Regions from separate parts of the Homo sapiens genome. Here all the other regions are reported to be linked to region 1. Evidence: microRNA targets listed by miRTarBase, many of them from high-throughput screens and not tested one by one. Region 1 holds a microRNA gene; each other region holds the end of a gene's coding sequence.
What was found. Region 1 holds the annotated microRNA hsa-miR-4793-5p (ACAUCCUGCUCCACAGGGCAGAGG, at 3,752-3,775, opposite strand). A microRNA usually pairs through its seed, bases 2 to 8, with sites in the 3' UTR of a target mRNA and lowers its output. Matches are read on the target gene's strand: a 7mer-m8 pairs with bases 2 to 8, a 7mer-A1 pairs with bases 2 to 7 and ends in A, and an 8mer does both.

Region 1 (6,089 bases):
GGCACCAGGACAGCTCAGGGGCACCTCGGGTCTGTGGCACCAGTGGGTATTGCAACCGGTTCTTCAGGATGCCTGTGAGAGGAAGAAAATGGGGGGCAGGGTTTGTGTGGGAGGGGGAGGGCAGGCAGGAATTGCTGAGTCTAGGGGTGTGGCAGCCCTTGGGATCCTTCCAACACAGGGATGGGAGCAGGAACCCCTTGGGGAGCAGCAGAGGCAACCCTGGTGGTCCCAGAGAGGCAGCAGGACAGGGGTCAGAGTGGAAGGGCAGTCATCTTCCAGTTGTGGTCCCGGGGCAGGGGGAGGGCGGGCAGGTCTCATGGTGCAGGGGATGGGGCAAACTCCCTGAGGTCAGAAGAGGGGCAGCCCTCAGGTCCTGACAATGCAGGCCTGGCTGAAATGCAGGAACCCCCCGGGTTGGACAGGAGCAGTCCCCAGGTCCCTGTGATGCAAGGGTGAGGGCAGAAACCTCTTCTCCGGGTCCCCATAAAAGCAGAGTAGGGGGCAGAAATCTTCCAGATCAGAGCACGGGCTCTGGGATCTGGGTGGGGGGCAGGGGGAAGCAGCTCCTAGGGTCTCTGAAAAACAGATGGGCTGGGGCAGGAGTGGTCGCCTGTGGTCCCCCTGTGGTGCTGGCCAGGGTAGAGGGGGACAGAGAATTCCCAGGTCAGGACAGGAGCAGTCCCTGAGGACCGTGAAGCAGGCTAGAGAAGCAGAAGCGCCCTAGGTCAGAGTAAGAAGAGCTCTCAGTTTGGGATGAGGAAGCTGCAATCCCTTGGCTCAGGGCATGAGCAGCCCCCAGCGTGTCTGCGGTGTGGGCCAGGGCTCAGGGACTGTACCTTTCCTCTGGCGCTGGGCCCGGCCCAGAGAAGTCTCATCCCCACTGGTCAGGGCCGGGTCTGGCTGGTTGTTGTTAGCTGCATCCTTGCTGGTGTCCAGCCCCAGGCGCCTTTCAGAGCCCCAAGTCTGCAGAGCACAGGGGGCTGCCTCGCACTCCCCCAGGGCTGGCCAGTAGGACAGGAGGTCATTGCCATCCACATCTGTGGAGCCAGGTCAGGTTACAGGAGCTTCTGGGTTGATCCCAGTGACTCATGACCCCTGACCCTAATGACCCTTGAAACCCTGGCTGTTCTCATTGAGCAGAGGTGGGAACAGGAGGGTATCTCCTCAGAGATCAATGGGTGGGGGTGACTGGTGAGCTCCCTCCCCTTAACTGGAGGTGGACAGAGACTAAAAGTTGGGGAACCTGATGACTGAGGGGTCAGAAAGACCAGGATGAACCCCAACCGCAGGAAAGATGGGGAGCTGGAGGGATAACAAATGGGGCATCCCTTGGTCACCCAAGGGGTCAGAGGGCGCCTGGCACCTTTGGGGTGGGTGAGGAGCCTCTCACTCTGGGCTGCTCGGCAGAGTGGCCGTTGGAAGCGCCCCCGCGTCCGGCCATTGTCCTCGCTTTCTGAAGATGGAATGGAGAGACTCCTCTCCTCCTCCAAGGACAGGTCACTGTCAGAGTCGGAGTCTGCGCCTGGAGTTGGGAAAGTCAGAAGTACTTTCAGAGGTAAGGGACTTGGAGATAAGGGAATTTGGAGTTGAGGGTCTAGAGGTGGGTACGGCAAGGGGGTTAGGGTTGGGGACAGGAACCGGGGCTTGAAGTGGAGGTAGCAGCAGAAGGGCTGGGACTTATCAGAGGGAAGGACGAATCAGGAGTGGACTGGGAGAACCAGGGCTGGAGAGGTAGGTGCCTCCTGAGGCAGGGACCCTGGGGGAGATCGTCCCACCCCAGTCAGCCACTGCTCCCAGTATGGGGTAGAAGAAAAGGGGATGGGGAGAGATCCTCTGCCTCCCTCCTCCCTGCCCCAGGCCCCAACTCCACCAGCATCTCGATGGAACATGGCCACGTCCAGGTCAGTGGGGCCAGCATGAGCCTGGAGGCTGTGGTCAGTGTGGTCAGCGGCTGAGCCATGTCGAACCAGGACATTGTCCCTGGAAAAGCAGGAGCCCCCCCACCATGAAAGAGGGATGTGATGGGGTGCCTTGGAGGCTGGAGTGTCTTTGAGTGCACAGCCAGCTGCGGGTGGAATGGCATCCCTGGGTGTGTGTGGTGGGAAGCATTTAGGGCAGAGGCAGAAGCAGGGCCCCAGATGGCCAAGATGGGTGGAGCCACCCGCCCTAGGACCTGGTCAGCCAAGCCCTGGTAAGGTGGGGCTGGACTAAGCTGAGTGTTCCCTCACAAGGAGGCTCTTCCTCTCACCTGAGGTAGCTGCGGCCCCGCTGGCTGTCCTGGTCCTGGGTCCGGCCGGAGCGGGCACTGCTCACAGAGGAGACGGTGGAGGCGCCCAGAGTGATGCGGATGAGGCCACTCTCCTCAAAGAGAGCCGTGTTGTTGTAGGCCCCAGGTCCCTGGGGGTGGTAGGGACAGAGTGTGAGCTAACCCTGAAGCAGCCTAAAACTCTGGCTTCTCAGGGCCCCCATCCCGACTCACCAGCCCAGGTGCTGGCCTTGCCTCCTCAGGCGCTGCCTTCCTGCCCAGACAGGCTGGCATCCAGGCAGCCCGAGCATCTGCATTTAGGACACAGAAGAGCAGCAGCACCGCCAGGCCCTGTGGGTCAGCGAGGGTCAAAGCAGAGTCGGCAGGGATCAATCAGGGACCAGTATAAGTCACTGTGGGTCAGCAATGGGGTCAGTCACTGTAGGCTAGTGTGGGTCAGTGAGGAGCCCATGCGGGACTCAGTAAGGGAGTTGGGGAAGGTCAGCAGGGGAGAGGATGGAGCAGCAGGAGTGGCTGGAGTCTGTAAGGTCGGTGTGGATCAGCAAGGGGTCGGGAGCCTTGGTGTTGGTGAAGGTCGATCCAAGATCAGCACTCAGTCTGGGATCAGTGCCTAAGTTAGAGTCAGCTCCAGGCCTGGGGGCAGCAGCTAGGGCCAGTGTCTGGTCTGGGGTAGTACCCAGCCTGGCAAAGTTATCCAGTAAGAGTCAGCTCCAGGCCTAGGGTCAACGTCTGCCTAGGGATGGCCCCAGCCTACTGAAGGCCCACCTGGTTCTGGGGCAAGGGAGGGGCACCAGAGTCACCTGGAGGCCGCAGAGTCCAGCATGGAGGTAGTGGAAGGCTAGGATGCTGTGGTTGACTGCCAGGAGCCCAAAGAGCCAGGAGGCACTGACCAGCAGAAGCAGCAGGAAGGAGCTGCGAAGGGTCCTGCTGTGGGGACATGGGAAGACACAGGAGGACATGCAAGGCTCATGTAGGACTCATGCAGGGAACACGGGAGGACACACAGGGGCCACACACGAAACGTGAAAAAAAGGAACTCACACGGGAACATGGAGGTCTCTGGAGGACACTGGGGGAGATGGGAGGTCCCACAAAGAAACAGGAGAGCAGTCAAAGAGCCATGAGGACACGTGGGGAAAACACAGGGGTATGGGAGCCACAAGGGAGGGCACGGAAGACAGGTGGGAACACACAGGGCAGGGGGCAAAGTGAGCCACCCAGGCCATGGGAGACTCTGGGGGGACCCAGAGGACAAGGAGAGACAGCAGGGCAGAAGCACATGTGGGGCTACAGTATAGCGAGGGCGCCAGAGAGGGACCACAGGTCAGGGCAGGTGTGACTTCATTCCTTCATCTAGAACTTGGAGCCCAACCTGCACCAGGGAAGATCTGGGGGCCCCAGACCCCACCCAGGAGGGACCTGCCATCCTGAGAAGCCCCCTTCCTCCAGCCAGCCAACTCACAGTGCAGAGGTCTTCTTGGCCTCCCTCTGCCCTGTGGAGCAGGATGTGCGGGCAGCGAGGAGAAACATGGTCCCGTTCATCTGGACCCACGGCCAGACATGTGGGGCCGGGCAGGGCAGAGAGAGAGAGAGAGAGAGAGGCAATGAGAGACAGAGAGAGACTAAGATTCACGGAGAGAGGCAGAACCAGTGAGAAATTCACACATATACACACACACCAAAGGAGCTTAGCATCACAGAAAAAGAAATTGGGAACCAGAGAGGGACTGAGAGAGAGAAGCAGAGACAGAGGCAGGGACAGGCAACTGAATCTCTGACCCCGCGCCCCCATCTCCATGCCAGTTGAATGGGGGTGGCTACTGACCAGAGGACAGAAAAAATGAAGGCCGAGCCCAGGAAGCCTGCAGAATGCCACCTGACCGCCCTCAGCTGAGTCCACTGCACCTCCTCCCCCAATGAGGGAGGGAAGTACAGAGGGGGCACCAAGTCCAGGGCACTCACCACTATGACCAGGACAACAGGGCCAGCAAAGCTCCAGATGAGGGGCTCGTGGACTGAGATCCAGCAGAAGTCAGGGTTCCCATAGCCCTCAGGGTCCAGGCCCACAGCAAGGCCTTGGGAAGAGAAAGGGTAGGACTGAGGGTGTGTGTTCCAGAGCTGCTGACCAGCCCATGTATGGGAGAAAGCATGGGTGAGGGCAGAGCAGCAACCCCATGAATAGATGGCTTGGGGTTTGAGGTTGGGGGTCATGAGCAGGAGTGGGGACAGGGTCAGGGGTCAGGCCATGTGATGGTTGGAGGTTGGGGGTCACAGCCCTCACCCAGCAGCACAGCAGGGACGCCCCAGCCCAGGGCATGGTAGAAGCGCATGGCGCCGCGGTCCACGTTGCGTGGCTCAACCTGCATGCGGTAGAGGTGCAGCCCCTGCACGAAGAGCCACGCGAAGGTGCTGAGGAAGAAGTAGTGCAGGAGGATGGCGACTGCAGTGCACACCAGCTGAGGGCAGGGGGGCGTGTCAGGACCTCTCCTGCCTCACCCACCTCTGACCCCTACCCCAGGCATCTGCTTCCCACCTCTCACCCCTAAACCACAATATCTTACCCCAGCATCCTGCTGAAAACCCTGGCCCCAACCTGAGCATCCCTGACCTCTGACCCTGAGTTTTGGCCCCAGGCCTCCTGGGCCAGTAGGGTCATCAGGACACAAGTTCCCTGGCCCTGATCCTGCACCTGATTGTGGGTCCTGTGAATCCCCAGCAGGAAGAGGAGCTCTGCCACCCCCAGGGCGGCTGCCACATTGGCATGGATCCCACGCACATTGGACTTGAGGCTGCGCAGGCTCAGCAGGATGGCTGCAGTCAGCACCAGCGCAGCCACAGACACAGCCACGACCACGTGGGTGAACACAGCCAGCAGCTCCAGGTCGCCCTCCAGCCTCTACAGAGACAGGGATGGTTGATGGGTTGTTGGGCAGAATCCCCGTGTCCCTTTGACCCCCCACTTCCTTGGGACACTGAACACAGCCCCACCTCACGGGGAGAGGCATCCATGAGGACCCCAAAGGTCCCTGTCCGGCTGCAGCGACACCGTGCGTGGGACCCATTCCTGTGCACCAGCTCGCAGTCCCGTGCTGTCCACACACCATGCTGCTCCGCCCTGCAGCCACAGGGCAGTTAGACACAACTGTGACCCAGTGTCAGGCAGGGGTTTGTGAGAGATCATGGGAAGGGCTGAGGGTGCCTGGAGTTGGGGTACAGCATTCCTCATGGTCCGGGTTGCACAACAGCACTAGTGGGGGCCCCAGGGGAAGGCTGGGACTATTAGTTGGCCTCCCAAGGGCTAACGGGACCAAGGGTTTCCAGAATGGGGGTCCTCACAGGCCAGGTGGGTCCCACTGCACACAGATCGCCTTGCTCCGATTCGCTGTCTGTAGCAGGCGAAACTCTAGGCTGATGGGGGACTCCAGGATTCCCCTTAGGAAGTTGCGTCCGTGGAACACAGCCACGCTGACCACCGGGGAGTTCATGACGGGGTTCTGAGGAAGCCTGGGGAGACACCCATCTGGGCTTACGCACTGCTGACCTCCCCATGCTCAGCCTGCTTGCCTCACCCCGTCTTCATGCCACTCGCCAGGGCTGACCCAGGGTCTGGGATGTCCCCAGAGTGGAAGCTGTTTCTAAGAATCCCTCCAGCTTCTGCTGGGCTGCTGAGGGGCTGAGCAGCTCCAGGGGACCTGCAACTGTTTGCCTCTGATTGCCCTCCCTCCTACCCCCATCAGTCAGCCTGTCCTTGTCTGTCTCTGTCAGCCCTTTGGTCTGTCTGTACCTGGCTCATGGATCCCTCCTGTGTGTGGCTCTGTGTCTG
Region 2 (6,089 bases), not on the chromosome of region 1:
ACTCTAAGGTCCTACAACTAAATACACTTACTTAGGAAACCTCCTAAATAAGTAGGCCTCTAGATATAAGTGAAAAACATGGGAATTCACTCCTTACATGGTGGTATCTGTTGCTCCGGCAGTTCTCAAAATGTCCTTTTGGTGCATCATAAACCCATTCTTTTAGAGAACAACAAAAATATTTAAGGTTTGGTGCATTAATTCTGAAAGCCTCAGATGATAAATAATGCTAAAAAACCAAATGCTATTTGTTATTAACTAAGTGGCTTAACATTTAAGGACAATGGTTACCCTACAATACAAGTTAATTATAAAGAAACATATCTTTTTAAAAATATAAATACTGAAAAAAAAGTCAACAATAATTCAATCAATAAAATTTCACCAGTATTTGTATATGCCTAAATTATATCAATAAAAGTTTATGGAAAAAGCTTAAGACAGATTTACAATTCCCAAATTCACTGTTGTTTCATTAGACTAGATAGATGCTCTGTAGCTTTATTCTCTTCATAGTTGGGATAGACCCACTAGCCACGTGTAACTTTTAAAATTTAAAGTAATTAAGTAAAATTAAAAATTTAGTTCCTCTGTATCACAAGCCACACGTGAAATGCTCAGTAGTCACCTCTGCGAGTGGCTACCATATTGAACAGCACAGACATAAATTATTTCCATCATCAAAAAAAGTCCTATTGACAGCAATGATTTAGACTTTTAGTCCCTATAATTTTAATATAAAGTATTATGCCCACTCTTCTAACATATATCCTTGCTTGCCTTACTCAGTTGAAAACCAAAGAGTGTTTAACAGAAAGCTGAATATGTGCTCCTCCCACTGAAGGAGAGGGCAAAAAGGAGGGAGAAGAAAGGTGAGCAATGTTGGAACAGGTATTTTAAGAAAGCAAATTTAAATTTAAAAGGTTTACCGCATCTCTAGGTAAAAAGTCCTAAATACTAACTCCCTGAAATTATGTTCAGTAGACTAGGTAAAAAATATTAATATTGCTCTCTAAGCTAGAAAACACTCTAAATTTAGAGAATCTAAAATTATTTAAGAACTGTTAGAATATATCTTCCATCTATATAATTATGATTATTCATTCTAACTTAGCATTTTATTAAAACATTAATCACAATTCTAAATGTCTTGTCAACCACCTCAAACATTCTACTTCTAAATCTATTCACAGATTCCCTTGACTAATATGTTTAATCAAATTTCAGAAAAGCTCGCCCACTGAAAAAATTTACCAGGACTACCAGTGCTGCAACAGTCAGTAAGATTCAAATACCCAGCTGGCCAAAATTCAGACTCCTGTTTTCTTGGGGAAGGAGTGAGAGAGCTTTTTATAGGCACGAAGTAGTTCTCTCTCCTGTTTCCAAAATTTGCTCTCACTGCCAATTCACCTCAAATAGTCTTCATACCCATAATATCTACAGGGCTTATAGCGTCTATACCATATCAGTGACATGCAGAGTGGAGATAAATGTCAATCACATTGATCCTAATAGATGAATTTGAGGGAAGAACAGAATGAATTCTGCTTTGGTCAACTGGAAAAAATGTTTCCAAATAAAAACAAAGTTAACATTATCAATAAAGTATTGACAAATTATAATATTCACAGCTCTACATAAACTTCATCAGTCAACTTTCCTTGAAGTTAAATTCCTTCAAGTTAGCACATTAATGGAGACATAGAAGGAAATGGGAGGAAAACATAAGAGGTTTCCCAGAATTTATACGTCCCTTTCTTCACCCATCTGTTTTAAAAGGCAAAAAATATTTTATTTTAAAGAAATTGGATTGCCTTCAAATAGACCTTTGAGAACCTCCTACTGAGTGACTTTAGGCTCTAAGTACTAGTGGTAACCCTCTGAACTGTTCTATCCAAAGGGTTTCCAAGGTATATTTTGCAATCAATTGAATAATGTTTGAGCAATGCAGAATTCTAGGTAATTTGAAAATAAATTCAGTGCTCCAACTCCATTATAAAAAGTGCTAAACTACTAAGATAATTCTATTTTCAGTCCTAATCAGGTATTATCATTGGCTTTCAAATTCTGATGCTTAAAAATAACAACCAATGCTAAACTATGATAAATACTAAGAACATCAACCCCAGCCATCCAAGTATCTAGAATATTCTATATATGAAATAAGGAAATAAGATAATTATTTCTATATATGAAATAAGGAAATAATACTTCCAAATTATTGGTTCCTATTTTCCATAGTTCTTTCTAACCGAAGATAAGTAACCTACTATATTATTCTAAGTAGTTACCAAAAATAAAATCCTAGGTGTTATGTTTAAATAAATGGGGAGGCAGGAATTGCAGTTTTCTTTCCCCTCGTTAAAAAATTCAAAGACAGGTGGTATGGTGGCTCACACCTGTAATCCAAGCACTTTGGGAGGCAAGAGGCGGGGGGATCCCTTGAGCTCAGGAGTTCACAACCAGCCTGGGCAACATGGGGTAACCCCATCTACATCAAAAAGACAAAAAATTAGCTGGGCATGGTGGTGCACACCTGTAGTCCTAGCTACTTGGGAGGCTGAGGTGGGAGGATAGCTGGAACCTGGGAGGTGGAGGTTGCAGTGAGCTGAGATTGCACCACTGCACTCCAGCCTGGGTGACAGTGTGAGACCGTCTCAAAAACAAACAAACAAAAACCACAAAGACAATGTAGAAAGATGAAATACACTCGGATTATTTATCTGATTGATATCAGAATAATTTAAATGTTGTAGGTAAAATATTTAGAATAGGGGTGACAGAACTACTCAAAACATTCACTTAAGATACACAATTAGTTTCTAAAATATGCACATTCCTGGTTTCATATTTATACATATGGTATTTTGCTTAATACCCAAGATGCAAAAATACGAATACATAGAAGATATCAAATCTATATGATAAAAATTGTCATATAATTTATATATACTTCATAGCCTTCTAACAGAAGTGATACATTTTTTTTTTCCTGATAGTGGCAACTCAATTTTTCTTTGGAATAAAATAATTTTGGAACGAAGGAAATCTGCAAATATTCTCGTCCTTACTTTCAATGTGAAGATCTTGTCAAATTTTTTCAAATCAAATGAGGGACTATAAAATATGTTTCAAAACATTTTAGTAAATAAGGTATTTATCCGTATCTATCATGTGAATGTACTATTCAGAAAAATTCCTGCAAAACTCTAGTATAACGCAGAAACACATTAAATTAAATTAAGTGTAATCTTAGTTCTGGGGAGAAAAATGTGTTTAAGTTGCTGCACTTTTTTTTTTTTTTTTTCAAAATTGTGTGTTTGTTAAGTCATATTGAAATATGTATCTGTATTAAGTTATAGCAGGATATTTAGTTCTCCTGTATTACTACTGAGGTATATTTGTTCACATTTATTTATACTGAAAGACACTAATGTTCAAAAGTTAGAATAAATACAAAAATGCATCTTGTACTTTGCTGTTTTAACCACTTGATACCTTAGGTGTACATCTTCCTTTATGATAACAAATACCAGGCCACAGACTGATTCAGCTTTAGTCATATAATACTGTAACACTCAAATGGGTTTCAAAATATAAACATCTCTGCTCTTGGATAGTTTTTTTGGGGGGGATTATCCTTCAATACATAACAGATGCAAGTATGTGCAACTGGGTGGTAGGAGGGAATTATTTTTATTATGAAAAGGGATGGATCCTTTTCAAAAAGGGACAGATCATATTTATTAAAAATAATTCCCTTAAAAACTTTAGATCTTGGGCCACATTTCACAAAAATTTTGGAATGATATTAAACAGTCTTTCCTCTTTTTAACAGCTGGATACTAAAAGTCACCCAATTTAATAGCCTTTAAGGCAATAATATGGAATCAAGTCTCAAATTGGATGCAATATTCTGCTGCAGATTACTTGTTGTCTAAGTGCATCAATTCACTGGTTGGGCAGTCCATAAAAAAGAATTTAAGCTAACTCAAATATTTGGGAGGAAAAAAAAGAAGAGAGAGACTAAAGCATGTCAAACTTGCTTCCTGAGAAATTGTCTCATTGCATAAGTTAAGCATGAGAATTTCCACCTCTGTAAATCTCTCATGCAAAAATAGGCTAACACCTAAAATAAATCTGTCATTATTTATATTATTTAATAAATGAAAGGAAATAAAATAAAAGTTGAAATCTGGGCCGGGCGCAGTGGCTCACGCCTGTAATCCCAGCACTTTGGGAGGCCGAGGCGGGTGGATCACGAGGTCAGGAGATTGAGACCATCCTGGCTAACATGGTGAAACCCCGTCTCTACTAAAAATACAAAAACAAAAAATTAGCTGGGCGTGGTGGCAGGCACCTGTAGTCCCAGCTACTTGAGAGGTTGAGGTGGGAGAATGGCGTGAACCTGGGAGGCGGTGCTTGCAGTGAGCCGAGATCACGCCACTGCATTCCATCCGGGGCCACAGAGCAAGACTCCGTCTCAAAAAAAAAAAAAAAAAAAAAAAAAAAAAAAAAAAAAAAGTTGAAATCTGTTGTTTCTTAAATCATATCTTCCAGATTACCTAAAACTAAAATCACGACCCAAAATCTGAAAAACTATAATTTTAAATTTTATTATATAGGTTTTCTCAATAACTTCCCAACACAAAGCAAAAAACACCAACCATTCCCAAAAACTACAGATACATAGTTGAGTCTATAAGTTAGAAGGCAGAAAAATATTAACTTCAAAGAGTTTAATGATGAATTAGTACTGTATTTCTGAAAACATTGGTGATACTGAAATAATACACCAATAGACATGACCAATATGATCCTGGCAAAATGCACATCTCGCTGGTCAAGCAGAAATATATCCTTTTACAAATGTTCTGAGGAACAATGCTTAAAATTATACAAGGGTTTAAAATATAATTTTAATGAAGTATATATAAAGTGTACATGAAAAGGGGAAATATGAAATCTGGCAAAAGTCTTTTGGCTTTCTTACAAATGGTATCCTTATAATTCCCCAACTATCAGAGGATGACATATTTTTCTAGAAAAAATAAAACGACTGCAATTGTATTTCCTATGATGCTTTATGTATCAGAGTCACTTGCAGATTCTGGTCTGCTGTCATCTGGCCCATCACTTTCCTTGTCCCAGTCTTTCATAGATGCTCCCATCATGAAATCATCACGTAGGATCGTCCAACCTGGGCCTTCTTCTGATTTCACTTCAGTCTAAGGAAAATTATAGAATCAAAATATTCAAAAGTCAATTCCATCATAAGGAAACAAAAAGGTACAAGCTACAAAACAAACTTTTCAATGCTTAGTTTTTAAAATAGGGGTAAAACCAAGAGAAATTATAAATCGACTTACTTTATACACTATGATTATACTATGATTATATATGTACAAATGTATAATAAAGAACTAAACATTAATAAAATATTGTATGGACTCCATAAAAGAAACATGAAAGCAAAATAAAAAAATTTTTTTGAAGTGAGGGAAAAAATATAAATCTAGGTTTGGTATTAATTTTTTAAGCACTTCTGACAACAAAAAACAGACTTACAATACTATTTAACCTTCAGTGATAATTTACTAGAAAATTTTGGGCAAATTATTTCACCGCAACTGACAATTTAACAAAGGCATTTAACCCAAAGTAAATTAAAAGTGGGAAAAAGAAACTACATTGGTACTATGCTAGGTTTTTTAAGATGCCATCTCACTTAATGTTTTTATAAAAATTTGAACCAAATGTTCTTTATTTAGGTTATGAGCTCACTGCCTGACCCAATCATGTAATCAAAGACTAATCGTATGTTGAAATTATAAATAAATGAAGCAGGCAATAAACATAATAGGTAGTCAATTCGTTTCATTTAGTCACAGGATTTATGTGGTACTAATTACAGCCTTTCATTTCATGGTACAACAGTACCACCTTGTGGTATCAATTAAGTAATACAATAGATGCAGCACTCAAAATTTTTCATTCCTTCCACAAATATTTATTGAGAATTAGCTGTGTATCAAGCACTATGTTAGAAACATAGTGATGAACAAAACGAAGTTCCTGTTTTCAGGGGG
Region 3 (6,089 bases), not on the chromosome of region 1:
AAAATCTAGAAGGCTCAAGAAGCCCTTGAGTTAAAAGAAGTCATAGTTTGGATTCCCACACAGCTCAACCTCAAGTCCTGATGGCTCATTAAAGGGGAAGTCTATGTTCTGCTCTAGTGATATAATAAAGGATGACACACTGAGTTCATCTCAAAATAAAGGATGACACAGAGTAGTAACTGAATAGCACGTATCTGCAGGAAAAGGGCTAGTTCACAAGAGCTGACTTATTCCCGTAAGTTTCACTACCAAGTAGCTGGACTTTCCAAGTTCCTCATCATTAAATGCAATAACATTCCTACTCATATTAATAACTGGGCACTTATATGTCAACAAATATCCTTCCTAAGCAATGCTTTCCATAAGGAACTTTGTCAGGATCTGATTTAAGTCCATAAACAAAAATTACATTCATTTTAGTTTAAACGTGTATCTTTTCCTTTTCCAATACATCTTCATACATCTGAGAGTTTCAGGAGGTGTTTACTTGAAACAGGTGCTAAGCACAGTTGCTCCTTTCTTGGCATTGTATTGTGGATTAACTGTGAGGCACCCATTCCACCCTGCAGTGTGTCTTATAGGGGAACATATGTTTCAGAGACAAATGGTGACAGCTCCCCCACACAAAGAAGTTCTGTTCTCTTCCCTCTACCTTGACCTGAATGCACTGTGATGTGTGTGTGTGTGTGTGTGTGTGTGTGTGTGTGTGTGTGTGTGTGACTCGTTCCCAGGTATGGAATCTGCTGGCATCCATGAAACAACTTACAATAGCATCATGAAGTGTGACATTGATATCCGCAAGGACCTGTATGCCAACAATGTCTTATCTGGAGGCACCACTATGTACCCTGGTATTGCTGATCGTATGCAGAAGGAAATCACTGCTCTGGCTCCTAGCACCATGAAGATTAAGGTAAAGAACTTTTGTGAGTGGGAGATCCGAGGCAAGTCTTGGTATTCTAAGCAGAACTACGTTCCAAATTCCTTTTCCCTCATACTCAGTTTCTTGTCTCCTACAAACTTTACCTGTTAGCTTTTCTACCACTTTTTCTGATTTTCTTAGCACTTTTCCCAAGATAGGTAACTTCCAAAATGCTTTTAAGCAGTGAATAAAAATAAATCTTTGACAAAAAAAAGACACACACACACGCAACAAAATCTTTGAATACATTTTTAAAGCTCCCAACTTTTGGGCTAGGCTCCACTACACATTTAGCTTGTTGCCAAATTACACTCTAGGTAAGTGGAGAAATTCCATTTTAATAATAGAATATATCTTTAATAATATAAATGATGAAATAGAGGTGAGTTCATATAACTTGATTGGCCACATTATTTCGTGGTATGACATATCCCACATTATAGCGAATTAATATCTAATGGTTTTTTTCTGTGAATCCTCCCAATGTGTTATTTGCTCCCTTGCTTGGAACTTCAGAGTTCACTGGAAGTTTTTGTTTTCTTTCTGCAGATTATTGCTCCCCCTGAGCGTAAATACTCTGTCTGGATTGGGGGCTCCATCCTGGCCTCTCTGTCCACCTTCCAGCAAATGTGGATTAGCAAGCAAGAGTACGATGAGGCAGGCCCATCCATTGTCCACCGCAAATGCTTCTAAGATGCCTTCTCTCTCCATCTACCTTCCAGTCAGGATGACGGTATTATGCTTCTTGGAGTCTTCCAAACCACCTTCCCTCATCTTTCATCAATCATTGTACAGTTTGTTTACACACGTGCAATTTGTTTGTGCTTCTAATATTTATTGCTTTATAAATAAACCAGACCAGGACTTGCAACCTATAAAAGCCTCTCGTTTGTTTTTGGGGTAGGCGTGGGGTGGGGCAGGTGTTTGCTTTGACACCCTGAGCATTGTCAAAGTTCAGTACCACAAGGTTCATCCAGATGAATTAATATGACAGTTAGCTGGGAGTTATAATGCTAACTTTTGATTTCATATTTTGAGACAGAATCATGAATATATTTCATACCTGAAAAGCAGATTAAGGTTTAGTTCCATATAAGTAAGAAATGAAATTGAATAAGATAGTTCTCTAGAATTAGTTGCTGCAGATGACACTGAAGATTATTTTAACATATGTTCCAGTTGTTTTTGTAACCTTGCAGAAAATACACATATATTGATAATGAGAAAGTCAAAGATTATTTTAAATGAATTGGCTTAACTTTTCAATTCTTTGAACTCTTCAATTTTCTTCCTGGGGGCTATGAAAGAAACATGAAGGTTAGCTGACAGTTGGGCCAGCCACATCCCATTGCAAATACCCTCTAAACATATCAAGACCATTGTGTGTGTGCAAAACAAATGTGAGGAAGCAGGAGCCAAACACTTCTGCCTGATCAGTGACTAACTTGCGAGACAGAAGCCTTCAATCTCTTCGTTTCTTTGAAATCTTGAGATCTTGGGTTGAGTGAACTGAAGGCTGCGAGGTCCTGAGGGAGCAAGGGGAGGCGAGAGCCACAGTGTTTGCTTTGCTCTGTGCAGAGCTCTCTGCAAAGTATGGTGGGAAGGCTGCTAGGGGCAGCGTTGAAAAGAATTGAATGTGTTCCATCCTCGAGGAGTTCACACACCTACACATAATCCCCCAGTGCGTGTGGCCTGGAGGCTTTAAGGAGATGTATGTGGGTCTGGGTCTTAGAGAATGGTCAGGAATTAGGGAGGTGAGAAGAGCAGAGAGGACATCTCAGCAGAAGGAAGTGTGGCAGAAGCCAGGATACAAGACATGGGGCAGGCTGGTAGGTGCTGATGAATTTTAGAAAATCCACTGGGAAAGGTAGATTTCAACTAGATTGCAGAAGCCTTACAGATTTTTGTTTTCAAATTAATTGCCAGTGAACTGTTAGCATTCACAGAAGTGTTTGAATAGACTTAATTGAATTTTATTGATGAGGATTCAAGACACAGAGATTAAGCAACTGGTGCAATGTTATAAACTTTATTTGTGGAATGTGCTAGACAGGAACTCAGATTTTCTGACACCTACTCTGATGGTGTCTCTAAAATAATCTTTCTAACTTTATAGTTTATCAAGGGTAACCCCATTCTATCACATGCCTTTTGAGAATTTGGGTTCAATATTTGGAGTACTCTGGACTCATCAGACATCTTTAATAAATTGTAATACATTGCCACTGTCATTCAAGGTCCTATGTGTGTCTTTTTGCCTATTCATACCAAAAATATCTTTTGATCCCTGACTCTGGGTCGGGCATAGTATTAAGGGCAGGGGACACAAAGATGTATGAGAGCACATTTTCTGTGAATAAAAAGCTCAGAGTTTAGAGTTCTGTATGTAGCATATTCAAATGGAAGGCCTTCTATGCAATAAAGGCTAAATAATACATCAACTTGGTGGCATTTTATTTAGATAAGGTGCAAACATTATTGTACATATGCCCCCCGCCCCCACCACCCCATTGTATCCTATAGCACAGTTGAACTGGTTTAAAAGCCATGCATGGGGAGGTATGATTTCACTAGTTTTTGTGTCTCTTTCTTTTCCTCTGTACAATTGAGTGCATAAATATTATGAATTGTATCCTCTGAACACAGTATTAATGCTTTAACTGTAGATGATTGGCTGGGGTATCACCTCTGGTTCTTTCCATCTGTGATTAGAAATGGAGAGGACATTTTTATTTCTATGTAAAAGTAGAAGCTTTAAGAATCAGCTTCTGATATTTATATCAGAAGAGGTAAGCACCCAGATTCTTGTTGAATTCTGAGGTCTTCTCATCTTTGCTTGATTATAGGGTATAAAGTATTAGAACAATTGAATCTTAAAAATTGTGCTTAAGGAAGGTACTAAGACAAAAATGTTTGCTTAAGGTAATCTTCATATGTATACAATAACTGAGACATGGATAGTGCCTACGTCTTTGGTTAAAGTGCAATAAACAAAGAACTATATAAATTATATTTCTTCTTAATTTATAATAAAGTATTGTTTGTAGTTTCTAATACCTCCAAACACCACTTCTTCATTTATTTTGACCAAACAATGGCCATTATGTAGATGTGTTTAAATATTTAGGAGAGTACAGTGGAGAGAAAAGAAATATTACTGAAGAAAATAAAATATTTAGAGGGGTAGGGCTGACTTATTGTATCCAGAGATACAATGTGAACAATGTGACTGGGTCTCCACCTTTCCTTCCAGTTCTCCCATAGAATTTATTACAGTCTGAATTGTGTTTCCTCAAAACTCATATGAAGCCCTATCTCCCAATATGACTGTATTTGCAGACAAGACCTTTAAGGAAGTAATGAAGGTTAAATGAAGTCATAAGTGTGAGGCCCTAATCCAATAAGACTGGTGTTCTTCTAAGAGGGAGAAGAGACACCAGGAGTACAAGCACAGAGGAAAAGCCATGTGAGGGCAGAGCCAGAAGGCGACCCATCTGTAAGCTGAGGAAAGAAGCCTGCTGACACCTTGATCTTAGACATCCAGCCTCCAGAACTGTGAGAAGTAAATGTCTGTTGTTTAAGCCACTGATATGGTTTGGCTGTGTCCTCACCCAAATCTCATCTTGAATTGTAGTTCCCATAATCCCCACATGTCGTGGAGGGACCCAGTGAGAGGTAATTGAATCATGGGGGCGGTTACCCTCATGCTGTTCTCATGATTGATAATGAGTGAGTGCTCATGAGATCTGATAGCTTCATAAGGGGCTTTTCCCCGCTTTTCTTGGCACTTCTCCTTCCGGCCACCATGTGGAGAAGGACATGTTTGCTTCCACTTCCACCACGATTGTAAGTTTCCTGAGGCCTCCCCAGCCGTGCTGAACTGTGAGTCAATTAAACCTCTTTCCTTTATAAATTGCCCAGTCTCAGGTATGTCTTTATTAGCAGCATGAAAACAGACTAATACAGCCACCCAAGTCTATGGTATTCTGTTATGGCAGCCTTGGCAGACTAATATAGGATTTCTCCACCATCCTATAGGTAATATAGGATTTACCAACTTAGCAGCCTCTGAGACAAAAGAATACCTTCCCATATAGTACTGGCAGAAGTCCCAGGAAAGTGTCTGAGCCTGGTCAGGCTTAGGAACCAAGTCATACCATTCTTACTGCAGGGGCTGAGCAATACTATTTAGCAGGGGAGAGGTGATTCTCCAAAGGAAGAGGACAAAATAGTGCAAACACCATACCCAGTGAGCTAGAGGAGGAAAAAATTCTGGTGGCTTGTAGGGGAAGAATTGATTGTTGGATGGCTCCCACCTTCCAGCTCAGGAGTTTTGATTTGACAGGTCCTGAGAAGGACTTGAGAAGAGCAATGACTTCATGCAAACAAATCTAGGCAGCAAGACAGAGAGCCTTTGGATAATATATTCCAGTATGGCCTCAGGACCCAGGGACCCAGTGATCTCTATATGATCAGACTATCTGGATTTTTAAAAGGAAATAATAAGTCAGATTCATTTTATGGTTAATATGATATAAATGCTATAAATATATACCAGGAACTAATAGGGAGGGAAAAAATATAGGTCTTTTAGGCCTAAAACAGCAAAAGTTGTCTATTCACCTTAAGGTCTTCCAGGCTCATTATACAAGAAATCTCTCTTCCAGGCAGAGCTTCTCTGGCTGTTGCTATGGTAACTAAACTCATGGTAGGAAGACATCCAAAACAAAGCTCCTGGAGAGGTTGCAAAAGTACACCTCTGGTCACTGATGAACTTGATGTTTGAAGACGTTCTTTGAAGTTCATTCATTAGCCCTGGGTGCAGCAGATGCAAGAAAGGTTGACTCGGAGGATAAAGAGCTTCAGTTCAACTATAGTTCTCTGAGTTCTTGTGGTTCTGGGCCCCCTCCCCTCCCTGGTTGAGGCTGGAAGTGAAGGGGAGCTGGGTCAGCTGAGAGTTAAGTAGGGGTGGCCTGCATGTCCTTCAGCATCATTGTCTGCTTATTTTCCTGCATTGTTTTACTGTAACTTCCATGGAAGTCATGACTAAAGAGGGGAGACAGAAAGAAAACTACCCCAAGGGAAGGCTGAAGTAAAGCAGAATTAAAACAGGGCTTAAATAGTAGATAAGAAGCAAACTCTAGAGTCAATTGTAAGCAAGGAATTG
Region 4 (6,089 bases), not on the chromosome of region 1:
AGGCTGTAAATGTATATCAGTCTGGGCAGTGCTTACATAGGTGTACAATATTACTTCATCAAGTTTAACACTTAGAATTTATGCTATTGCCACCAGTATTTTATATACCTAAATAAAAATAATTCAAGTAGTGTAGAGAAGGCTACTGAACGTAGTGAGTGTGGAGTTCAAGGGAAACAAACCCACGGGGGTGAAATCACCAAGGAACAATTAAGTATAATTAGTAAATGTGTCAGAGGCTGAGTCTTAGAAAACTTCAATCTTTAGGGAACAGAGAGATGAAGAGAAACGATGCATTAAATGACCATGACGAGTAGCTACATAGGAAAGAGCAACAGAGTTTGAGAATTTTAGTTACTTTTCTGCTCTTTAATAGAAAAAGATATTTTAAAAGGTGATTTCATAGAAATTGAGTAAGCCTGCCTATAGATATATGGTGTTCTCCAATTAAAATACAAAAACAAATTGGGTTAAAAATAAAACACTAACTATATGGTGTTTATAAGGATATATACCTAGAACAAGCTGACACAACAGACCTAGTGCAGCTCTACTGGCCAAAGCAGAATTTTCAATATTAGAGAAATTGGAATTCAACATCACAGTGAAAAATACAGCAACCAAACATAAAAAGTAAAACCCCTATATTAACAGAAGACCTTGAAACAATATAGCTGGGCGTTTTGTGCCCACTTTTCAGAATTAAACAAAATAATCAGAGGATATTTAAATAATATAATCACGAAGCTTAATATAATTAAGTAGAACTTTGTGTTTTATAGAGAATATATATTATTTCACATCATATATCTATAAAATGTATTAAAAACCTAACGTATATTTGGCCACAAATAATAAATTAATGTTTTAACTTTTTAATGAAGTTTCACAGATCACACACATTATAAGTTCATATGCTAAATTTTTTTCACAGGTTTTTGAAAATTTAGAAACACACACAAACATACAGACACCTAGGTAACTAGTGAATCAAAGAGAAATCAAGATTAAAATAATAATTATCTAGAAGTTAATTTTTAAAAAACTATGGGGCCAGGTGCAGTGGCTCACGCCTGTAATCCCAGCACTTTGGGAGGCCGAGGCGGGCGGATCACGAGGTCAAGAGATCGAGACCATCCTGGCCAACATGGTAAAACCCCGTCTCTACTAAAAAATACAAAAATTAGCCAGGCGTGGTGGCGCATGCCTGTAGTCCCAGCTACTCAGGAGGCTGAGGCAGGAGAATCACTTGAACCTGGGAGGCGGAGGTTGCAGTGAGCCGAGATCACGCCACTGCACTCCAGCCTGGTGACAGAGCGAGACTCCATCTCAAGAAGAAAAAAAAACCATGGGCCCCAGATACAGCAATATTCAAAGGAAATCTTGTAGCCTTAAATGCTTCCAATTTAAAAGAGACTGAAAATATATTAACCAAGCACATGTACTCAACAGAAATACACACAAATAAAAAGAAAATAGTGAAATATATTTTTGAAATAGAAAAAGCAAACAAAAATAGTCAAAAGCATGAAGAAAACCCAGATAAGGTTTTTTTTAAAAAAAAAACAAGTAAAATGAATGGGACTCCTTCAAATCAATTTAGAGGAATAAAGTGGTTTAAAAATAAAACTATGAGTAGAAATACAAATATATATACAGAGACTGAAAACTGAAAGCCAATTCTGTTTGCCAATATCAACGAATTTGAAAATCTAAAGAAAAGGAACCATTAAAATCATTGATGAAGTAGTTTATCAGTTCTAAAATGCACTTTTTACCCCGCATTTTAATGTCTCTGAAAGTGGGTTTCAATATATATCTCCAACAGATTAATCTGCAGGACTTTAAAAATTAGTTTCATATTTAAAGTGATGTATTTTATATGTAGCATCTTAAGATTTCATGTTACTTTAGTCTGTTTTTAATGATTCCTATTCCATTCTTTTTAAAAATTAAAAAATCTAATTACCTCAAATTAAAAAGACATAAAATATACTAATGCTGATATATTTTCATCTTTTGCTCTTTCCAATGCAAAATGTGATTGAATGCCAGAATATTCACTCAAGGGACCTGACTGGGGGGTATAAAAGAGACTTTGGCTACAGGGTTTTTTTCCCCAGCCTTCCTAGATATAGTTTTTGCTTTATATCCCTTATATAATACCCATTTCTATGCCACTTTGAGTCAGTTCTGGTGATTAAAATCCTTTTACTAAAATGTTCAATTTTCAAAATAATTATTAAAAGGTTACATGTAATCGTAATAAACATAAGCTGAGTATCCCTCAAAATGCTTGGGACCAGAAGTGTTTTGGATTTTGGAATATTTGCATTATATTTACCAGGTGAGCATACTTAATCCAGAAGTCTGAAATTATCTTTGAGCATAATGTTGAGCTCAAAAAGTTTTGGAATTTGGAGCATTTCAGATATTGAATTTTCAAATTAAGCATGCTCAACCTGTAATCTGTAAAGTCTCTAGAGTAATGTCGCTTTTGCATTCATGTTCATATACCTTTATTTATGAGAACTGCTACTATTTTTGTTTTCAAAACATTAGGTTGTGATTGATCTAGCTTTTTTTATTCTAAAATTATTTTTCCCTCCCATTATCCTTAGGGTTTTTGTTGTAGTTATTCTTTCTCCAGCTTCTTGGGTTATATGCTTGGTTTCTTTATTTATAATTTCTTTAACATTCTAACAAATGAATGAATTTAGAGCTATAAAATTTCCTCTGTATATTACAGGTCCTCACAGGTTTTGCTATGTAATCTATTCAGTGCCACTTATTTAAAAAATAATGTATTTGATTTTAGTTAATTTACTCATTTATTTTTAGAGACAGGATCTTATTCTGTTTTCCAGGCTGGAGTGCAGTGGCACAATAATAGTGCACTGAGGCCTTGAATTCCTGGGCTCAACTGATCCTCCCACCTCAGCCTCTGGTAGCTGGAGGCCACCATGCCTGGCTCATTTTTAAAACTTTTATTGTAGAGATGGGGGCTTGCTATGTTACCCAGGCTGGTCTCAAACTCCAGGCTTCCAGCAATCCTCCTGCCTCAGCCTCCCAAAGTGCTGAGATTTCAGGCAAGAGTTACTGTGCCTGCCTGCATTTTATTTTTAAGCAAAGAATCATGCAGATGAGTACTGAATTAATATTTGGATTTCAATGGAGAAAACTGCTAGTTTTTTTACTTCTACCCTGGTACAAATTTTATAGTGTATTTGTCTTCTCACACTTTATAATCTTATTATTTTTTCTGTAGGACAATTTTTTATTTATTTATTTTTATTTTGTTCTGAGACAGAGCCTTGCTCTGTCACCCAGGTTGGAGTTCAGTGGTGCAATCTTGGTTCACTGCAACCTCCACAGGTTCAAGCAATCCTTATGCCTCAGACTCCCGAGTAGCTGGAACTACAGGCACACGCCACCATGCCTGGCTAATTTTTGTATTTTTAATAGAGATGGGGTTTCACCATGTTGGCTAGGCTCCTGGCCTCAAGTGATCCACCCACCTTGGCCTCCCAAAGTGCTGAAATTACAGGTGTGAGCCACTGTGCCTGGCAGCAAATATTCTTATTCAACAAGGAAAGAATGTCAATCAAATTTTCCCTACATTCATTTAAATGAATGTCTTTCTCCATTATGAGGTCTTTGTTGTTGAGTAAGGTATGGATCATGGCTAAAAGTTTTTCTAGAAATAATAAAGATGAAGCTTGAGAAGATAATAGTGATGGGTAACATTCACTAAGCATTTATTATGTGATAGGCACAATTATAGAATCCACACAATAAGGCTCTGAGGTATTGATTCTACCCACATTACCATAGGTATGTTACAGATGCATATAAAAGGATCTGGAAGAATAAGTAAATTGGTTAACATTGGAAAGGAACTGAGGCCAGGAATGCTGCTCAAAGGAAAGGCCGGCTTTATCTGTAATGTAAAAATCTTTTATATGCAAAAGCAATTGATACATTATCTCTGAAATGAACAATAAATAAATAAATCAGACACACTGAAAAGGGGCCATCAAGGTAAGTGTTTATAATGGCAAAATTTTTAATATTTGACAAAATTGGGGTTTGATAAAGACAGGTGAATACTATAAAGCCAATAAAATGGTAACAACATATTTACAGACAAAAAATATTAAGGGCTGGTTATAGTATAGCATAATCACACCTTGTTTCCAAAACAATGAGAGATAGTATTAAAGGATTTGCTCCAAAAGTTTGACAGTGATTATCTATGATTGGTAAGATTACAGGTAACCATATCCTTTTTTTCTTTTTATCTACATTATGATGAGGGAAAGCTGTTTTGCTAAAATGGAGAGTATAATTTTATAAAAGGAAAGTAAACAATCTTCTAAAACAAAAGGTACAGGTATTAAAGGATACTTAAAAGTAACAGTTATTGACCATAAACAGGATGAGACATAGATACATATATATAAATTTAAAAAACAAACACTGGGCCAGGCATGGTGGCTCATGCCTGTAATTCCAGCACGTTGGGAGGCCGAGGCAGATGGATCACGAGGTCAAGAGATCGAGACCATCCTGGCCAACGTGGTGAAACCCCATCTCTAATGAAAATACAAAAAATTAGCTGGGCGTGGTGGCGGGCGCCTGTAGTCCCAGCTACTGGGGAGCTGAGGCAGGAAAATCACTTGAACTCGGGAGGTGGAGGTTGCAGTGAACCGAGATTGCACCACTGCACTCCAGCCTGGTGACAGTGAGACTCCATCTCAAAAAAACAAAAACAAAAACAAAAACAAAAAAACACTGACCTGATATCCAAGCTTTATGTGAATAAAAATGTAACTTACCATCAAATAGTCAATAAAAAAAATATGAAAATGGACAAGGTTATTGAATAAATGGTGTTAGGATAATCAGGAAAGAAAAAAAGGATAAATTTAGACTTGCAATAAATAAAATAATTTTTCAATGAATCAGTAATTCTGTATAATACAAAAAAAAAAGACCATTGAAAAAATATAGTAGGATTAACCCAGAAATGAGTTTTCCAATGTTTAAAGTTGAGGCAAAATATAATAAATGATTTTTTTTTCATTTTTAACATTCACAAGTAAGAATTTTCCAAAAGTAATGAAGGAATGAATATAGATAAGGATCTTCAAATATTTATTTTATTTGGGGTGATTTTTTTCCTGTATAAATATTCTTAGACTGACTAACCTGTGAAGCATAAGTAAGGCATTTGTACCTTAGTTCTATTTGTAGAGATTTTCACCACTATGAATTTTCTTAAGTCATATGTTTAGAGTCCTTCCTTCAGCACATAATTTCAATTTATAGTTTCCAATTCGCAGAGTTTCTTACCATTATGACTTTTCTTATGTTGCTGAAACTCTGAATCCCTCCCATAAGCCTTCCCACAGTTCTTACATTCATAAAGTTTCTCACCTGTATGAATTCTCTGATGCTGAGTAAGGCTTGAGCCACTATAAAAAGCCTTCCCACACTCCTTACATTCATAGGGTTTCTCACCAGTGTGTATTCTCTGGTGCCGATTAAGAGCTGAACCACTACTAAAGGACTTTCCACATTCTTTACATTCATAGGGTCTTTCACCAGTATGGATTAGCTGGTGTTGGATAAGTTTTGAGCCACTACCAAAGGCCTTCCCACATTCCTTACATTCATAGGGTTTCTCACCAGTATGAATTCTGTGATGTTGAGTAAGGTCTGAACCACTACTAAAGGTCTTCCCACATTCCTTACATTCATAAGGTTTCTCTCCAGTATGCATTCTTTGATGCTGAATAAGTTTTGAACCACTTCTAAAGGCTTTCTCACACTCCTTACACTCATAGGGTTTCTCACCAGTGTGAATTCTCTGATGCTGAGTGAGATCTGAGCCACTATTAAAAGCCTTCCCACATTCCTTACATACATAAGGTTTCTCACCAGTATGAATTCTTTGATGTCGAGTAAGGGCTGATCCAAAACTAAAGGCCTTACCACATTCATTACATATATATGGTTTCTCACCGGTATGAATTCTCTGATGCCGAGTAAGAGCCGAACCACTGCTAAAGGCCATTCCACATGCT
Region 5 (6,089 bases), not on the chromosome of region 1:
AGTCCCCTCCTCTACTAAGCCAGCTCCAGTGGGAGGCAGGACGCTTGGGAACAGGAGCCCAGGGAGGCCGTGACCTGCCGAGGTCACACAGCGTGTCTGCAGGAAAATCCATCTTGTGGTTCCTAGCCCTGAGCTCATTCTGCCCCACTGGCCCTCAGTCCTCCCTCGTATCTAACCTTGGTCCCTCCTGCTGCTACAAAGACCTGTTTCCCTTCACCAGAAACTGCTGCCCTGCGAGACCAAGCCAGTGAGCCTCCAGGAGATCGTGGCAGCCCAGCAGAATGGCTGTGTGAAGAGTGTAGCCGAGGCCTCCGAGCTCACCCTGGGCCCCACCTGCCCCCACCACGTCCCCGTTCAAGTGGAGCAGGATGAGGAGCTGCCCGCTGCGAGTCTGAACCACTGCACCATCCAGATCAGTGAGCTGGAGACCAATGTCTGAGCCTGCGGAGCTGCAGGGGCAGGCGAGGCCTCCAGGGGCAGGGTCCTGAGGCAGGAACTCGACTCTCCAACCCTCCTGAGCAGCCGGCAGGGGCCAGGATCACACATTCTTCTCACCCTTGAGAGGCTGGAATTAACCCCGCTTGACGGAAAATGTATCTCAGAGAAGGGAAAGGCTGCATGGGGGAGCCCCATCTAGGGAGTGATGGGCCCGGCATTGCCTGAGGCCCCGCTGTGACAGTTTCCCCGGTGTGAGCCCGGTGAGGGCGGCAGGCAGGGGTTATCCGGCCCCACTTTCTGGATGACAGACTTGAGGCTCTGAGAGCTGAAAACACTTGTCCAAGGTCTCACGTTAAGGTCAAGACACTAACTCAAATCTTTCAAGCCCCGCCTCTCCTCTTGGAGGACAGGGCAGCCTGCAGCTGTGTCCAGGCCCAGGCCCCACCCCATAACAGGTGGCCTCAGCCACACAGTTCTCCCCAAGGGGAGCAGCCCAGGGCCAAGCCCCGCTGCCTTCCCCAGGCCACAGTGCGTCCAGTCTCCTGTCCTGCCACGTGTCTTTTGCAAAGCTCCTTGGATGTGGAGACAGATGTCTTTACTAGAGCTGAAAGGCCCCCTTGACACATCCAGGCCAACCTCCCATGGAATAGGTAGGCAAGCCAGGACTCCGGGAAGGAGGTGCAGCCAGGATGCTCTGGTGGAGCTGCCGATGGGGCCCTGGTGTCAGAACTCCCCAAAGGCCTGTGCGTCCAAGTGGAGTCAGGTTTTCTATTCCTTTCTGTGTTTGCAAATTCAGTGTTAACTAAATAAAGGTATTTTGTTTTTCACTTCTTGTGGGCTTCAACACCTTATGCTAGCCAGCAAATATGATATTAGCTACTGGGCTAATTAATACAGGCGGCCAGAGTGCAGACGGGCCTGTCTGGGCAGCCAGGATATGGGCGGGCCTATGCAGGTGGCCAGAATCTAACAGGCTTGTCCATTTGGCTGGAGTGTAGACAGGTCTGTCTAGGCTGCCAGTGTGTGGACAGGCCTGTATGGGCAGCCAGAGTGCAGAGAAGCCTGTCCTGGTGGCTGCAGTAAGGACAGTCCTATCTGAGCTGTCACATGCAGAAGACAGAGTATAAGCTAGCCTACCCAGGAGCCTGTCTCAATAACCACAGGGCAGCTGGGCATCGTCCAGTGTGGACAGACCTCTCTGCCATGGTCTAGGCTCTGCTCTGCAGGCAGGGCCTTGAGATCAGTCCCCAAAGAAGAAACAGATTTCCTTCCCAGTCTGGCTCCCCGTGGTGAATGCTTTGCTTTAGACAGGGGCGTGCCCAGGGACATTTCCAGATGGTCTCCCTCATTCTCACACCCCAGGCTGCCTCCAGGAGGCCTGCAGGGCACACAGAAGGGCCCTGGCAACACAGCCTGTTCCAGATATGCCTTGGGGAGAAGATACAGCTCTGGGGTCTGGAGGGGCTTGCACCATGATGCCCTTGAAGACACTAAGGCCCAGGGAGGGGACAGGCCTCCCCCAGGTCACTCAGCGTCAAGAGGGCACCTGCTCCCACTGCCCCATTCCTGAACTCCTTCCACCCTCCTCCCAGGGGTGGAGTGTGAGGAGTCTGGGAAGAGCACGACCCCAGGACACCTCCTCCCACTGCAGGGCTGGGGGCTGCAGGCCTCCACGAGAGCATCCTTCCTTCCCTGAGGCCTCCTCACCTGGGAGAGGTCAGATGTCATGCAATCGGTCATCCCACCTTCATGCAGACAAGCTTAGCAGCCCCTTCTAGGTGTCACATCTCTAAGACCCCTTGAGCAATCGAGTCTGTCCCAGCACAAGGCAGGAGTCTGCTCTTTAGTGGACTTGGCAGGAGCATCCTTACACACCTCCAGCAGCAGGGAGGTCACCACTTCCCGAGCATCTCAACCCACAGTGGGGCAGCTCTGCCCATCAGAGGCTCTTCTTAGCTCAGAGCTGGGTACCACCTCCCGGTGGCAGCTCTCCCACTGGGGTGGGAAGCACACTGGGTGCATCTGTTAGCTCTTTCCTGGAAAGGTCTGCGGAGACCTGGGCCCCCAAGTCGGCTCTGCTCCAGCTCCCAGGCCTGCCTCCAGTCCCCTGCTCTCCTCTAGAACCCACTAGTAACACCCTGTCAGTGCAAAGGTGACCCATGACCCTCCAGGTGAGCCCTTAACAGGCCCAAAGCCCATGAGGTCCTTTGCTTGGATGCTCCACCTCTGGGAATGCACAGCAAGCTCACAGGCCGCGTGTGCTGGTTCAGGCCTCACCTACTATTCCCGAGTGGGCCATCTGCACACACCTCAGGCCCCCTCGCCTGAGGCTATGCCCTGTTCTCCCAGGATGCCTGCCTGTGCAGCTACTCTGCGGGCCCCGAGAACTGGACTTTCCACTGATGTCTGCTGTTCTGGCCAGGGCGCTGAGGGGCTTGTATCCTGCCCCCTCCACCCGGCACCAGGCCAGCACCTGGCAGGAAGCAAGCACAGACATAGCCACAGGCTGCAGGGATAGGGATAATGCTTTTATATTAGTTTTTCTATAACAAGAAAAATCAGCTTTGAGATTTTTATCATTTTTTTCCTTAGAAAAGAATAAAAAATAAAGGCACCCGGAACTTCCCCCACAGGCCTGAAGAACAAAGGTGTCTCCTAGGTGCAGCTGGGTCCTTCCTCCCTGGCTCAGCCCAGCCCCATCACCTCTGCTTCACTCCTGCCCCAAGGCCCCAGCAGCACCCAGGGGGCTCTCCCATCCTGCCTCCACTGGGCTTGCCCATTGGAAAAGTGCCTGTGTCCTGCCAGGGCGTGGCAGGGAGGGACTCTTAGCAGAGTGACTGCCCAGCACCTGGAGGAGCAGGGTGGGCCAGGCCAGGCCAGCAGTCCTGAAGGCTCCTGTCCCCATAGGATGGGAAAGGAATAAAAGCCAGCTTTTGTGAGTTCCAGAGGGTGGCAGGCACCTGGCCACAGAGCATGGATACCCTTGTGTCTTCTCCAGGGAACGGACGGACAGATGGACAGGGCAGACGGCGAGCTGCTATGGCTGATTCTGGCTGGGGCAAGAGCTGTCTGTGGCATAGGCTTTGGAGGGCTGTTCGCACATGACTTGTGCATGTGTGTGTGTGTGGTGTGTATGCATACGCATACACATGTCAGCAGGGGGAGGGAATGGGTGCCTGTGTGTGCCAGGGCAGGGGCAGACCCTTCCCTGCATGATTCAGAGGGCGTGGCAGCGGTAGTGGGGGTGTGACAGAGACTGTGGTGGTTTGGAGGGTAGTTGTGTGTGGCTGAGCTGGGTGTTTGAGGGTGTGATGTGTGTGCATGTGTCTGGCCGTGGGACACGCCGTGGGAAGGGGTGGGGATATGAGACTGTGTCAGCCCGTGTCATGTGGGATGCCTCATGTGTGCAGCTGGGTGTGTCTGTGTGAGCACGGCAGAGTGGGGGGCTCACAGCACACAGGCGTGTGCTGCAGAAAAGAGTCCGGCGGTCCATCGTCCTGTGGAACATGTAAGAGAGTCAGGGGCCAGCTCAGGGCAGACCCACCAGCCCAAGCAGCCTGAGGGGACCTGCTGTGGGGAGCCCTGCTGGAGGGGGCTCTGGAAAGGCCAGGCTACTATGAGTAGGGAGGGAGCGTTGGCCCTGGGAGCCCAGAGCCAGCGGGGTGCCAGAAGGCCTTTGGGTCCCACCAGCCACTCCCCAGGGCTTCTCCCAGAGCCCCACTCAACTGACCTGAGATGGGGCAGATTCTCACCCACCCCAGGACTCCACAGCCCCTCATGAGGGCTGTGGTGTCCCCACTGGATGGCCAGTCACCCTGTCACCCACCCCAACTCTGTGTGAGGACAACACCTCAGAGAACCAGCTCTACCTTCATACTCCCGGGCCCTGGGAGCTGGGGAAGGTGACCCCCAAGCTCAGCCTCTTGCCAGCCCCTCCACACTTGCGGATACCCAACTCTGTGCACACTCTTCTCTCACCATCAACTTGCGCCCTTCTCCCAGCTCCCTCTGTCACCCACCCAAGTGGCCCTCAACAGCCCCCTCTGGTTCCTCTTCGTCCCAGGCCCTACTTCAGTCAACACTCAACAGTGGCCCGGCAGCCCCTCCCACGGCTACGTCCTGGCCCTGTGACCCCCAGCCTGGCTCACTCCTCACCAGCTCTCCTCTCTCCTCCGACCACACAGCCGCTCCTGGCTCCTCTCCAATGTCTTTCTCTGAGTCCCTGCCCACCAGCCCTCCTATCTGCACCTCCTTCCCTACCCAACCTGACCCCAGGACCCATGCCTGCAGCCAGCCTCCGGCCAACACACTCCCTTGTTCCTTGCCCTCCTGTCCTGAACTCTTGGCTGAAAAACTCAGCTGTGGGTGGATCCACCTGTCCATTTTCTCCATACCTTTGGTCTGCGGAGAACCTCCCTGCTGCACAGAGAAAACGGAAGACTGGAGGGATCCGGCTGACATGGCTTCACATCTGGCCACCAAGCCACCAATCTGCCTGTGACAGCAGCCACCCTGCCCTTTGTTCCTCCTGCTAAAGCCAGCAACTTCTACCATTCCCACAGGGGCCCTCAAAGCCAGCTCTTTCCTACATCGGTGACTCCCCCTCCAGGCCAGCCTCTTCCCACCAGCACCCAAGCCAGCCCCCTCCTTTAAGAGGGTGCGTGTGGAAGATGCATGTGTGTGTCGGGGCATCTTGCCAGAGCCCCTCACACAGGGCTCCCCTCGAGAGGCCTTTGCTTCCTGTGAGGCTCAGAAAATGAGCGTTTCCTGAACTTCACACTCCATTCCCACCTCTGCCCTCTCTCATCTCTCACAGCCAAACTTCTCAAAAGGCTGGTCTGCAGTGCCTGGACCCACTTCCTTTCCAGCTGCTCTTCTCATCCCAGCTTCCCCTGCTGCTACAAAGTCACAGACAGCCTCCAGGTGGAAAAATCCAGTGGGCGCTCCGCAGTGGTCAGCTCCCTCAGTGCTCAGTTCCCTCAGCCCCTCAGCAGCACTGACACAGCCAAGTCCCCACTTCTAGACAGGCCTGTGCATGCACGCATCATGTGTACATGTGTGCATGCAGGTGTGCATGTAAGGGCCCGTATACGTGGGTACGCATGGGTGTTTTGTGTGCATGTACTCACATGCATGTACACACGTGTGTGCACGTATGTACATAGTCTAGGCATGCAAATGTGTCATGGGGTACAAGCATGTATGTGTGTCTGTGTGCATGTGTGTGGTGTGTGTGTTCTGCCTGTGCATGGTTTGTGGATGTGTGTACATGTTGAGACGTGTGTGCACATGAATGTATGTGTGTTGGTGCATCCGTGTGCATTTGTGTGCATGTGCACATGTAGGTGCCTGTGTTACATACATGTGCAAATGCCCTCTGCCCACGGCAGTCTGGGGTTTTCCTACCTCCTTTCCTAACTGCTCTGTCTCAGTCACCTGCCCCCCTCACTCACTCTCCCATGGCAAGCTTCCCCAGCCCCCTGCAGCTTGAGTGATTGTTTCAAGGCTAACAATGCCTGGATCCCTCTCTCCAGACCAGACCTCACTCCTGAGCCCCGACCCACATGTCCAGTGCCCCCCGGTCACTCCCGTGACAGCACCCTCATGCTGGGTGAGAATCTTCTGGAAGGTGTGGGCCTCCCGTAGGCTTC

Region 2: miRTarBase lists RRP15 as a target of hsa-miR-4793-5p. Seed matches in the 3' UTR shown: 7mer-m8 at 4,282-4,288.
Region 3: miRTarBase lists ACTC1 as a target of hsa-miR-4793-5p. Seed matches in the 3' UTR shown: 8mer at 1,646-1,653.
Region 4: the mRNA of ZNF345 is a reported target of hsa-miR-4793-5p. Seed matches in the 3' UTR shown: 7mer-m8 at 4,566-4,572.
Region 5: the mRNA of SLC1A7 is a reported target of hsa-miR-4793-5p. Seed matches in the 3' UTR shown: 7mer-m8 at 1,124-1,130.

What each region holds. Positions count from the first base shown.
Region 1 is chr3:48,640,488-48,646,576 of GRCh38, forward strand. MIR4793 (microRNA 4793) reads right to left here and starts at 3,793; the gene lies at 3,707-3,793. It overlaps CELSR3 (cadherin EGF LAG seven-pass G-type receptor 3), which reads right to left. Exons shown (of 35, transcript NM_001407.3): 22 at 5,603-5,770; 23 at 5,255-5,381; 24 at 4,956-5,162; 25 at 4,548-4,722; 26 at 4,229-4,341; 27 at 3,729-3,808; 28 at 3,067-3,190; 29 at 2,480-2,596; 30 at 2,249-2,397; 31 at 1,871-1,980; 32 at 1,364-1,522; 33 at 837-1,037; 34 at 1-72.
Region 2 is chr1:218,330,087-218,336,175 of GRCh38, reverse strand. RRP15 (ribosomal RNA processing 15 homolog) reads right to left here. Exons shown (of 5, transcript NM_016052.4): 5 at 1-5,228. The coding sequence ends at 5,085. Among named protein-coding and RNA genes, the nearest start is that of TGFB2, 12 kb to the left of the region's middle.
Region 3 is chr15:34,785,938-34,792,026 of GRCh38, reverse strand. It overlaps ACTC1 (actin alpha cardiac muscle 1), which reads left to right. Exons shown (of 7, transcript NM_005159.5): 6 at 732-913; 7 at 1,472-1,797. The coding sequence ends at 1,615. The region is part of intron 2 of GJD2-DT (GJD2 divergent transcript); the gene reads right to left. Among named protein-coding and RNA genes, the nearest start is that of ACTC1, 6.6 kb to the left of the region's middle.
Region 4 is chr19:36,877,529-36,883,617 of GRCh38, reverse strand. It overlaps ZNF345 (zinc finger protein 345), which reads right to left. Exons shown (of 3, transcript NM_001242472.2): 3 at 4,043-6,089. The coding sequence ends at 5,321. Among named protein-coding and RNA genes, the nearest start is that of ZNF345, 30 kb to the right of the region's middle. RefSeq lists an enhancer at 4,987-6,089.
Region 5 is chr1:53,082,359-53,088,447 of GRCh38, reverse strand. SLC1A7 (solute carrier family 1 member 7) reads left to right here. Exons shown (of 11, transcript NM_006671.6): 11 at 221-1,265. The coding sequence ends at 439. It overlaps PODN (podocan), which reads right to left. Exons shown (of 11, transcript NM_153703.5): 11 at 2,954-3,935. Among named protein-coding and RNA genes, the nearest start is that of PODN, 23 kb to the right of the region's middle.